Homo sapiens: one gene and its partners. The protein of the gene in region 3 interacts with the protein of the main gene of each other region in a pairwise test. Each region holds a gene or a part of one and is shown on either strand. Other genes may lie near its edges.

What was found.
Region 1: the proteins of PGBD1 (region 3) and ZNF24 interact in binary tests that used the Homo sapiens proteins (3 or more experiments, as listed by UniProt).
Region 2: the proteins of PGBD1 (region 3) and MEOX2 interact in binary tests that used the Homo sapiens proteins (3 or more experiments, as listed by UniProt).

What each region holds. Positions count from the first base shown.
Region 1 is NC_000018.10:35,331,615-35,334,470, forward strand, and holds the end of ZNF24 (zinc finger protein 24), read right to left. Parts: 3' UTR 613-2,856; downstream 1-612. UniProt on the Homo sapiens protein: Transcription factor required for myelination of differentiated oligodendrocytes. Required for the conversion of oligodendrocytes from the premyelinating to the myelinating state.
Region 2 is NC_000007.14:15,623,992-15,627,753, forward strand, and holds part of MEOX2 (homeobox protein MOX-2), read right to left. Parts: intron 2,928-3,762; coding exon 2,755-2,927; intron 1-2,754. UniProt on the Homo sapiens protein: Mesodermal transcription factor that plays a key role in somitogenesis and somitogenesis and limb muscle differentiation. Required during limb development for normal appendicular muscle formation and for the normal regulation of myogenic genes.
Region 3 is NC_000006.12:28,291,422-28,295,183, reverse strand, and holds part of PGBD1 (piggyBac transposable element-derived protein 1), read right to left. Parts: intron 1-3,762.

The DNA of each region.
Region 1 (2,856 bases), on a different chromosome or scaffold from region 3:
TGCCACGTGTAGTTTTTCACACACGCAAGCAACAGATGTAAATCCCATAACAGTGCCTGACCCAGAGTAGGCATTTAAATGTGTTGAATAAAAGCTTGCAAAATGTTTTCCTCAATTTTGAAAGACATCTCTTTGAAAACTCCATCTTAGGAGATGTGATTAATAGAGGTGCCAGGTGACATAGAGCGCTGCTACATTTCTGGCCATAGAAAAGAGCCCACAGGGTGAGGCTGCTCAGGTCTGTGTGTGCTCATTCACGTCTTGAGTCCACAGGCCTGAGAATGAAACAAAGAGCCAGAGAACCATGGAGTTGGGATGGAGGTCATTGGAAGGGCTCCAAGGGTTGTATACAGGGAATGCTTGAGGGGAATCCCCCAAGAACAATGGTAGGAGATGGGTACAGCTCTCAGCAGTGTAACCCTTAAAGTCCCAGGTTAATGAGTCTAGAGGAAGAATAAGAAGAGAACTGCCAAAGAGGCAATTGTGTAAAAAGCTGTTCATCCACATTCCCAACATCAATGTTGTTACTATTGGAATGTAAAGTGTATGTGTGTGGGGTGTGTGTTATAGGGAGAATGGAGTAACAAATGGCAAAAGTTGACACAGGCCAAATCATGGAAGGCCATGCTAATTTTATTAACTTATATAGTGCATAAAGTCTAGAATTTAAAATTACAAAGGTTTTCTACAAATCAATAAGAAAATACAAATAACCTATATTAATCAGAACAGAAACTCAATTCAATTATCTTAAACAAGAAAGGGACTTTATTGGCTCACAAAACTTTAAAGTCCGGAGGTAGGGCAGGCTTTAGGCACAGCTGGATCTAGGGCCTCCAGAAAAATGACATCAGAACTTAGTTCTCTTTCCATTTCTGCTAGCATCCGAGTTTCTCCTCAGACAGACTCTCTCCACATGGCACAAATTCAGGCTTACATGGTCCTTGGTTCCTGGGATCTCCATAAAGCCTTCTTTCCAGTAGTTCCAGCAGAAGTTCTGTTAAGGGCTTTCCTTAGCCTGGCTTAAGTTATATACCCATTCTTTTATCACTGTGGCTAGGAAGCTGTGGGACTCAGGAGGCCAGGCCTGGTCACATGCTCACCTAAGCCACAGGGAATAGGTTCCCCACAAATAAATAAAGGTTGTGTTACCAGAAGATGGGGAAGGAGATGCTGAACAAATAAAAACAATATATCCACACATAACCCAATAGAAAGCAGGTAAGGGATACAAACAATCCACAGTAAACTATAAATGGCCAATAAACATGAAAATAACCCCAATCTCACCATTTTTTTTTATAATCAGGGAAATGCAAAATAAGAAAAGGTTCTTTTTCGCCCAACAGATAAAAACTATCAAGTGTAGGTATGGTTATATGGGGAAATGAACATTCTCCATACACTTGGTGAAAATACAGTTATGAAGGCCTTTGGGAAGACTGAAGGTGGACAGAGAACAAACCCTTTGATCCAAAAATCCACCTTACTGGACTCCAGACTAAAGAAATATTCACACACATGCACAAAGACATCTGAATAGGATGTTTACTTTGGCAATGTAATAGCGAGAGGAAAAAAATTAAGGGAATAAATAATGGCATTTTCATAGTATTTAATCATATTCAACCATTAAAGAAATTTAAAGACCTGTTATCTTTTTTTGAGACCAAAATTTTAAAAAGCTACAGAATATGAGATCCTATTTATGTAAAAAGTGTTTTTATGTGTATGTATATTCGTACGGAAAGGTGACTAGAGGATGTATGTTAAACTGTGGTAAGTGGAATGTGATTGGTAGCATTGGAGAAAAGGGTCTCTCTATTCAAAGAACTGTGTTTTTTATACAATGAGAAGGTAGTCATTAGACTTTCATAATTAAAAAAAGGAAAATGGGCAAAAGCAATTCATAATAGGAAATGCAAATGGCCAAGAAACATGAAAAGATGTTCCTCCTCATTAATATTCAAAGAAAAGAAAGAAATTTTGCCTACCAGATTGGCAAAAATTTTTAAGGATTCAGGGTTGGCAGACTATAGGCAAACAGGCATTCTTACTAATGATGGAGTTGTAAATTGGTGAAATCTTTTTGGTAGTAGTTTTCAAAACTGCAAATGTGAAACCTGATCCAATAAATTTCTAGTTATTCATCCTACAGAAATACCCACACAAGTAGCAAAATACATGTACAGGAATGTTAATTACACTTCTATCTATAATGAACCTAATTATCAATCCATAGGGGATTAAATAAATTACAGAATATTCATGCAATGGAATAGTATATAGTTATGAAAAAAGAACATCTTCAATGTGGGGGGAGAGGAGGCAAGTCTCAGTGTAGTGCATGTGAAATGGGGTTATGTCCTACTTTATACGGTAGCTGAGGATTAAGAGTTAATCCATGATAAAGCACTTCAAATAGTGCCTGTCACAGCAACCACAGGTGTCAGCTGTTAACACATTATTGATTAAATAAGTATATGCCTAAATCTGGAAGAACAAACGAAATTATCATGACTTCTCGGTAACACTGTGAAAGGAAATATCCTTTTTCATTTTACATTTCTGCACTGTAAAAAATTCAAACCAGCAATGTTTAATAGCTTTCACATTTGTTAACCATAAACACAAATTTATCAAGGTTTAATAGCCACCACCCATGGCATGGTGAATATGTCCCTGGAGTCTACAGAACCAGATTTGAATTTTATCTCTAGGCCACATGCAAGTCACATGATCTCTGAATCTTGCTTTCCTAGTCCACAAATCTAAGTGAGATAGGTACGGTGTCTAAGCCAATGCCTAGCATGCAGATTATTTCAGTACATGTAACCCTCCCTTCAATTTACATGA
Region 2 (3,762 bases), on a different chromosome or scaffold from region 3:
ATTCTGTTTTATAGTTTACACTAAAAATTATTTCATACCCATTATGATATACAAATCTACATAGAAGAAAGAGCAGGTTTTAATTTCCATTTTATGCCTTGGGGAGATTGTTACTTACTTAAGAACACACAATTCTAATCAGCAAACCTTGGATTTTTATTCAGATTTTTTTCATAACAATTAAATTCTTTTTGACTAACCCAGGGAGGCCCTCTAAAGCCTTAGTTTTGATTAGGAATTTAAATTCTGCATGTATACATCTTTTCACATTAACTTGCAAAACTGCACGTAGAGATTTATGGAATAAAAATATATTGTGCACAATAACAAATTTTCAATTCAATGAAAACTGAACTATCTCTCATGTTCTGTGTTAATTTCCCCCCTGTGATGCTGTGGTTAGATTATTTCAGGAATGACTTCCAATGAAGCGATCTTGTCCTACACTGACACTGAGTTTGGTCACATGGCTTGCTTTGGACAATGGGACACTAGCAAATATGACGTAAGAGGCCTGAAAAGCCCTTGCTCACCGGAGTTTTCCCCCTCAGTGCTCCTGGGAATGCTTCTATCACCATTGGAAGGATCCCAAGCTAGCCTATAAGAAGATGAAACCACAGCTGAGGCCCAACCATCTCTTTCTTAGTCAGCCCACCAGCTGACTGGAGCTCCATGAGGGTTCCATGTAGGGCCAGCAGTATTACTGTCCAACTAAGCCCAGTCAAAATCTCTAACCTACAAAACCTAAAGCAAATAAAACTTTGGTTATTATTTGAAGCCATTAAGATTTGGAGTGGTTTGTTACACAGCAAAGGGTAACTAACACAAAATGTTAAAAGAATCTTTAAAACAACATTAAAATAGTATGTATAGGTATATATAATTCTTGCATGTAATTCTTTACCAAGCTCCTGAAGTCAGTTAGAAAGAAGAAATATCCAAGACACCTTCAACGTTTTCAAACCAGATTTACAAAACTGCTTCTAAAGATAAATGATTCTGCTCCGTGGTCAAACAATGACAGATAACCGTAGACCACCCCCAAAATGTCAAGTACAGAATCTTGTTTTTCCTCTTGGCTGAGAGCACAGTACTGGATCCTGTCATTTCTACAGATTGGAAGCAAATCCTAGTTTCCTAGTTCCTTCATCTACTATATAAAACACGGTTGCATTTCCTAGAATTCACCATCTCTATATAAGAACATTAGTGTGTAATTCTCCCTCCACATACACCTTTTTATTTTCCGTTCCCTGTTTAAAAAAAATAATAAAATAGAGGTCTGATGATGTAGACTTTGGATCCTGCTTTCCAGCATGCCAAATGTTGAACCCATAGAGGGAATTTTGTATGTGAAGTCTAAGGGAAGGAAAATGCTGTGCTCCATAACATAGGTACTAGTCATAATATGTAATAAAATACAAACTGCCAATAAATAAAACCACAGAAAAGTGTTCCTCTGTATATTTCTACTACCCATAAATAACCTACCAAAGCTGAAATGTAAAAATTAACAGAAGGAAAGCAGGTCATTTAAGAAATTGGATAAAATAACTTGCTCTCTTAAGACATGCATTCATTTGTCCACACCCTGTTGATATTTCTTTGGTTCCAATGGGATCCTGGAGGAGGTACACACAGTGAAAGAGGAAATGAGACTCTAGCCCTAAGAGTGCCAATCATAACTGCACTGTCCATAAAGATGTTTGCATTTGCCTTTCAGGAATGTTTTTGTAAAGATTAGCAACTGTTAACCGGCAGTAGGCTAGATTCTCCTCAGGGAAACAAGAATCTGTACAAGGAATTCACTGGGAACACTGTTAGAACAAATCATTTGTCATTCAAAAAAAATGCAAGAAAGGGACCTAAAAAGCAATTAATTTAAAAATATTATTTAGGTCTCATTAATTGGAGTCCAAAAACATTAATAATTTCAAAGTATTCTCTGAGTGGGTAGCAGAATTTTGAATTACTGACACCGATACAATTTCAAAAATATTTTGGGTAAAGGGGCAGAAATATTTACCAATGATCTATGTGTCCTTGCCTTTCATCATTTCCCAGCCATCTTGCACCTAAGCCGCACCATTTGACTATTCTAGACATTAGTGTGTAAATAGAAGTGACATGGCTAATTTCCAGGTGAAAACATTTAAAGGTCAGTGCATAAACTTCCAATTCTTTCTTATTTCTTGTAGTTACCATGGACACCACATGTTGAGATGCTAAAGAGTCAGAATGGGTCTGTGAGTGATTATCTGGAATGCTGGACATGTAGAGTTTGTATGGAGAGTGAGTAAGTAATGAACATTTTTATGTTATGCCATTGAGATTTGAGGGTGAATGTGTTACTGCAACTTATCATGACCTATCCTGAGCAATACAGAAAACTAATCTGGGTTTACCAACTTTCTAATATGCCAAATAAGGAGATTTTAACATATAAGCATGCACAACTCCTCACTGTATGCCATCATTATGTAAAAGAAATAATATTTTAAAACCCAAAAATACAGAAGGATAATAATCATAGGAGGATTCTTTCTTCAACTCAATAAGTATGGTTTTCTTTCAAATATCACTATATTATTTTTAATTTTGTTATTTTGCTGGCAAAATTTTATCATGGAATAGTATAACTGTCTTCCAAATGGTATTCAAGAATTCTGGATCTAGGTATTTCAAATATGGCAAAGAAGACTGTGGACCCAGGGCAATTAAAAAAGATCATATAATGATAATGCCCAGCTTTACCTGTCTTTCAGTGAGATCCAGATTCACTGCTATCTCGTATCGCCTCAGTCTGGTGAGATAATTATGATGGGCAAATTCTGCTTCAAGTTCTCTGATTTGCTCTTTGGTAAATGCTGTCCTTTCTTTCCTGGGTTTGCTGTTGACTTCTGACTTGTAATTTCCTTCCTGGGAGTCTGAAAAAAAAGGGAGACAGAATTGGTAATAACTCATTTATTCAAACACATGCAATCATATTATTCACAGTTATTGAATTACTACTTTTCCAGGTACTGCGCTAGACATGGAACAAATAGAGACCAAAGACAGCAAGACTGACGGCAGCTCAACGGGGGGAGATATAATTCTTATTTTTTTCATCTTCCTTCAGGTAACTCACAGTCCATTTGGGAAAGCATGTAATTTTCTTCTTATAAAATATTAACAAAACCTTTAACTGCTTGTAGTATGATATTAAGATAAACCAAAACCTCTCTAGAAAACACTTTTAGATATGAAGTTCTGTTTCATAAGTTGTTGAACATACGTACTTGAGGTCTAAGTAAGATTGAACATAGTAATCCTTTAAAAAGTGGCATCTCAATATAGGAGTATTTGAGAAATTCAAACGTTTAGCAACTGGACCATAAAAAATTTTATGCTCAGACTGAGCGTATGTAAAAGTATGTGTGTACTTATTGGCTTTTTTATCTGTATTTAAGTAAAATTCTTGAGGGCAATAGCAATGTTCTTTTATTTTATATTATACTTAGTCCAACATGGAATCTATAAATGAAATTGTGTTCATATGACTTAAACTATGAACAGAGTTTTTAAATGTGTTTTTCATTATATATAAGATAAACATAAGGTGCACAACATGTAACATCAGTGATCCACAACATCAAATCTTATAATGCAGTGTAAAATACCAATAGCAATTTTGAGTATATCATTCCATTTTTCCTCTTAAGGGTTCAATACATAACTAACGTATAGAATTTCTTTTATCCTCATAAATACCCCTGAAAT
Region 3 (3,762 bases):
GGTTCCACTTCTAATACTAGTCCTTTCCACCACATCTGCAGCTACACTATCCACTGAAGTCCTAAACCTCTCAAAGACAATGATGAGTGTTAGAACCAATTTCTTCCAAACTCCTGTTAATGTTGGTATTTTCACCTCCTCCCTTGAATCACAAATGTTAATGGCATCTAGAATGATGAATCCTTTCCAGAAGGTTTTTAATTTACTTTGCCCAGATCCATCACTATCTATGGAATCACTATCTATGGCAGCTATAGCCTTAAAAAATGTATTTCTCAAATAATAAGACTTGAAAGTCAAAATTACTCCTTGATCCATGGGCTACAGAATGTGTATTGTATTGGCAGGCTTGAAAACATTAATTTCCTTGTACCTCTCCTTCAGAGCTCTTGTGTGACTAGGTGCTCTGTGAATAAGCAGTAATATTTTCAAAGAAATCTTTTTTTCTTTTTTGAGTAGTATGTCTCAACAGTAGGCTTAAAATATTCAGTAAACCATGCTGTAAACAGATGTGCTATCATCCAGGCTTTGTTGTTCCATTTCTAGAGTACAGGCAGAGTAGGTTTAGCATAATTCTTATGGACCCTAGGATTTTCAGAATGATAAATGAGCACTGGCTTCAACTTTAAAATCACCAACTGCGTAAGCCCCTAACAAGTCAGGCTGTCCTTTGAAGCTTTGAAGCCAGGCACTGACTTCTCCTCTCTAGCAATCAAAGTCCTAGATGGCATCTTATTTCAATAAAAGGTGGTTTCATCTTCATTGAAAATCTGTTGTTTAGTGTAGCCACCTTCATTAGTGATTTTAGCTAGATCTGGATAACCTGCTGCAGCATCTGCATCAGCACTTGTTGCTGATGCATTTTATAGAGATGGCTTCTTCCTTACACCTCACGAACCAACCTCTGCTAGCTTCCGATTATTCTTCTGTAGCTTCCTCACCTCTCTCAGCCTTCACAGAATTGAAGAGAGTAAGAGATGTGCTCTGGATTAGCCTTTGGCTCAAGGCAATGCTGTGGCTGGTGTGATCTTCTATCCAAACCACTCAAACTTTCTCCATATCAGCAAAAAGCTTTTTGCTTTCTTATCATTCATATGTTCACCAGAGTAGCACTTTTCATTTCCTTCAAGAACATTTCCTTTGCATTCACCACCTGCCTGTTTGGCACAAGAGGCCTCCTAGCTTTTGGCCTATCTCGGCTTTCAACATGCCTTCCTTACTATACTTAATCACTTCTAGCTTTTTATTGAACCTGAGAGGCATGTGACTCTTCCTTTCACTTGAACACATAGAGGTCACTGTAGTAGTAGTATTATAAATGGCTTCATTTCAATATTATTGTGTCTCAGGACATAGCAAGGACCAAGGAAAGGAAAAGAGATGAGGGAACAGCTGGTCAATGGAGGAGTCAGGACACATACAATGTTTATTGATTAGGTCTGACATTTTAAACGGGCATGGTTTGTGGCACACCAAAACAAATTCAATAGTAACATCAAAAATAACTGATCACAGATCACCATGACAGATATAACAATAAAGTTTGAAACATTTTAAGAATTACCAAAATGTGACACAGAGTGTCACGTTTAAGAATTTAAGAATTACCAAAATGTGACACAAAGTGAGCACATGCTGTAGAAAAATGGTGCTGACAGACTTGTTCCACACAGGGTCATCACAAACTTTCAATACTGCAAAGCACAATAAAGTGAAACACAATGAAGGAAGTGTATCTGTAATATCATACCTCCTTATTTTCTCCCTTTATCAGTCCATAATTTGTTTTGTAACTTATATTGCTTTCCTATGGCTCTTGTAACAAAGTACCACAACCTCAATAGTGGAAAACAACAGAATTGTATTATCTCATGGCTCTGGAGGCTAGAAATCCAAAATCAAGATATCAGTAGGGCCATGTTATCTTTGAAAGCTCTATGGGAGGCCTGGCGTGGTGGCTCATGCCTGTAATCCCAGCACTTTGGGAGGCCAAGGTGGGCACATCACTAGGTCAGGAGATCGAGACCATCCTGGCCAACATGGTGAAACCCCATCTCTACTAAAAATACAAAAATTAGCTGGGCGTGATGGCGCTTGCCTGTAATCTCAGCTACTCGGGAGGCTGAGGCAGGAGAATCACTTGAACCAGGGAGCCAGAGGTTGCAGTGAGCTGAGATCGCGCCACTGCACTCCAGCCTGGCAACAGAGCAAGACTGTCTCAAAAAGAAAGAAAAAGAAAAGAAAAGAAAAGAAAAAAAGCTCCATGGGATAATTTTCCTTGCCTCTCTCCAAGTTTTTAGTGTTTGTCAGCAATTCTTGGTGTTCCTCGGCTTGCAGATGTGTTATACAAATCTTTGCCTCAGTGATCACATGGCATTCTCCCTGTGTGTGTTTTCACTTGGGCATTTTTCTTTCTTTTTTTTCAACCCCTTGGTCAATTTGCAAATATGGACTTCTTATAAGAATATGAGTCATTAGATTAAGGGCTCACCACATGAATTTTTTTTTCTGATTTTTGTGAAGAATGTCATTGGTATTTTGATAGTGATTACACTGAATCTGTAAATTGTTTTGGGAAGTATTGTCATTTTAATAATATAAATTCTTCCAATCCATTAGAATGGAATATCTTTCCAGTGTTTTTGTGTCCTCTTCAATTTGTTCCATGAGAGTTTTAGTTTTCCTTATACAGGTCTTTCACTTCTTTAGTAATTAAATGCTAAATTATAAATTATAAATAAAATACTAAAAAATATAAAATGCCTAGGGAATTTAAACACTAAATTTAACTTAATTTGGTGTTTAAATTTTTAGTATTTAAATTCCCTAAGTATTTTATATTTTTTGTAGCTTTTGTAAATGCGATCATTTTCTTGATTTCTATCTCAGATTGTTCACTATTGAAGTATATAAATGCTACTAATTTTTGAGTGTTGATTTTTTATCCTGCAACTTTACTTAGTTTGTTTATCAGCACTAACAGTTTTTTTGGTGTAGTCTTCAGGTTTTTCGAGGTATAAGATTATATCATCTGCGAACAGACTAACCTGACTTTTTGCTATCCGGTTTGGATGCCATTTATTTCCTTCTCTTGCATAATTGCTCTGGCCAGGACTTCGGGTATTATGTTGAACAACAGTGGTGAGATGGGCATTCTTATCTTGTTCCAGTCCTTAGAGAAAAGGCCTTCAGTTTGATGTTAGCTGTAGGTTTGTCATATATGGCCCTTATTTTGAGGTATGTTCCTTTTATACCAATTTTGACAAGGGTTTTTATCAAAAAGCAATGAATTTTATCAAATGCTTTTCAGCATCTATTGAAATAATCATATGGTGTTTGTTCTTGATTATATTAATGTGATATATCACATTTATTGATTTGCATATGTTGAACCATCCTTGCATCCCTGGAGTGAATCCCACTTGATCATGGTGAATGATCTTTTTAATGTGTTGTTGAATTCAGTTTGCTAGTGTTTCATTGAGAATTTTTGCACCTATGCTCATCAGTGATGTTGGTCTGTAGTTTTCTTTTTATTTTGTATCCTAGTCTAGTTTTGGTATCAGGGCAATGCTGGCCTCCTAGAATGAATTTGGAAGTAGTCCCTCCTCTTCAATTTTTTTTTTTTTTTTTGAAGAATTTGAATAGGATTGGTATTAGTTCTTTTTAAATGTTTGGTAGAATTCAGCAGGGAAGCCAACAGGTCCTGGGCTTTTCTTTGATGGAAGACTTTTTATTACAGATTCTATCTCGTTACTTGTT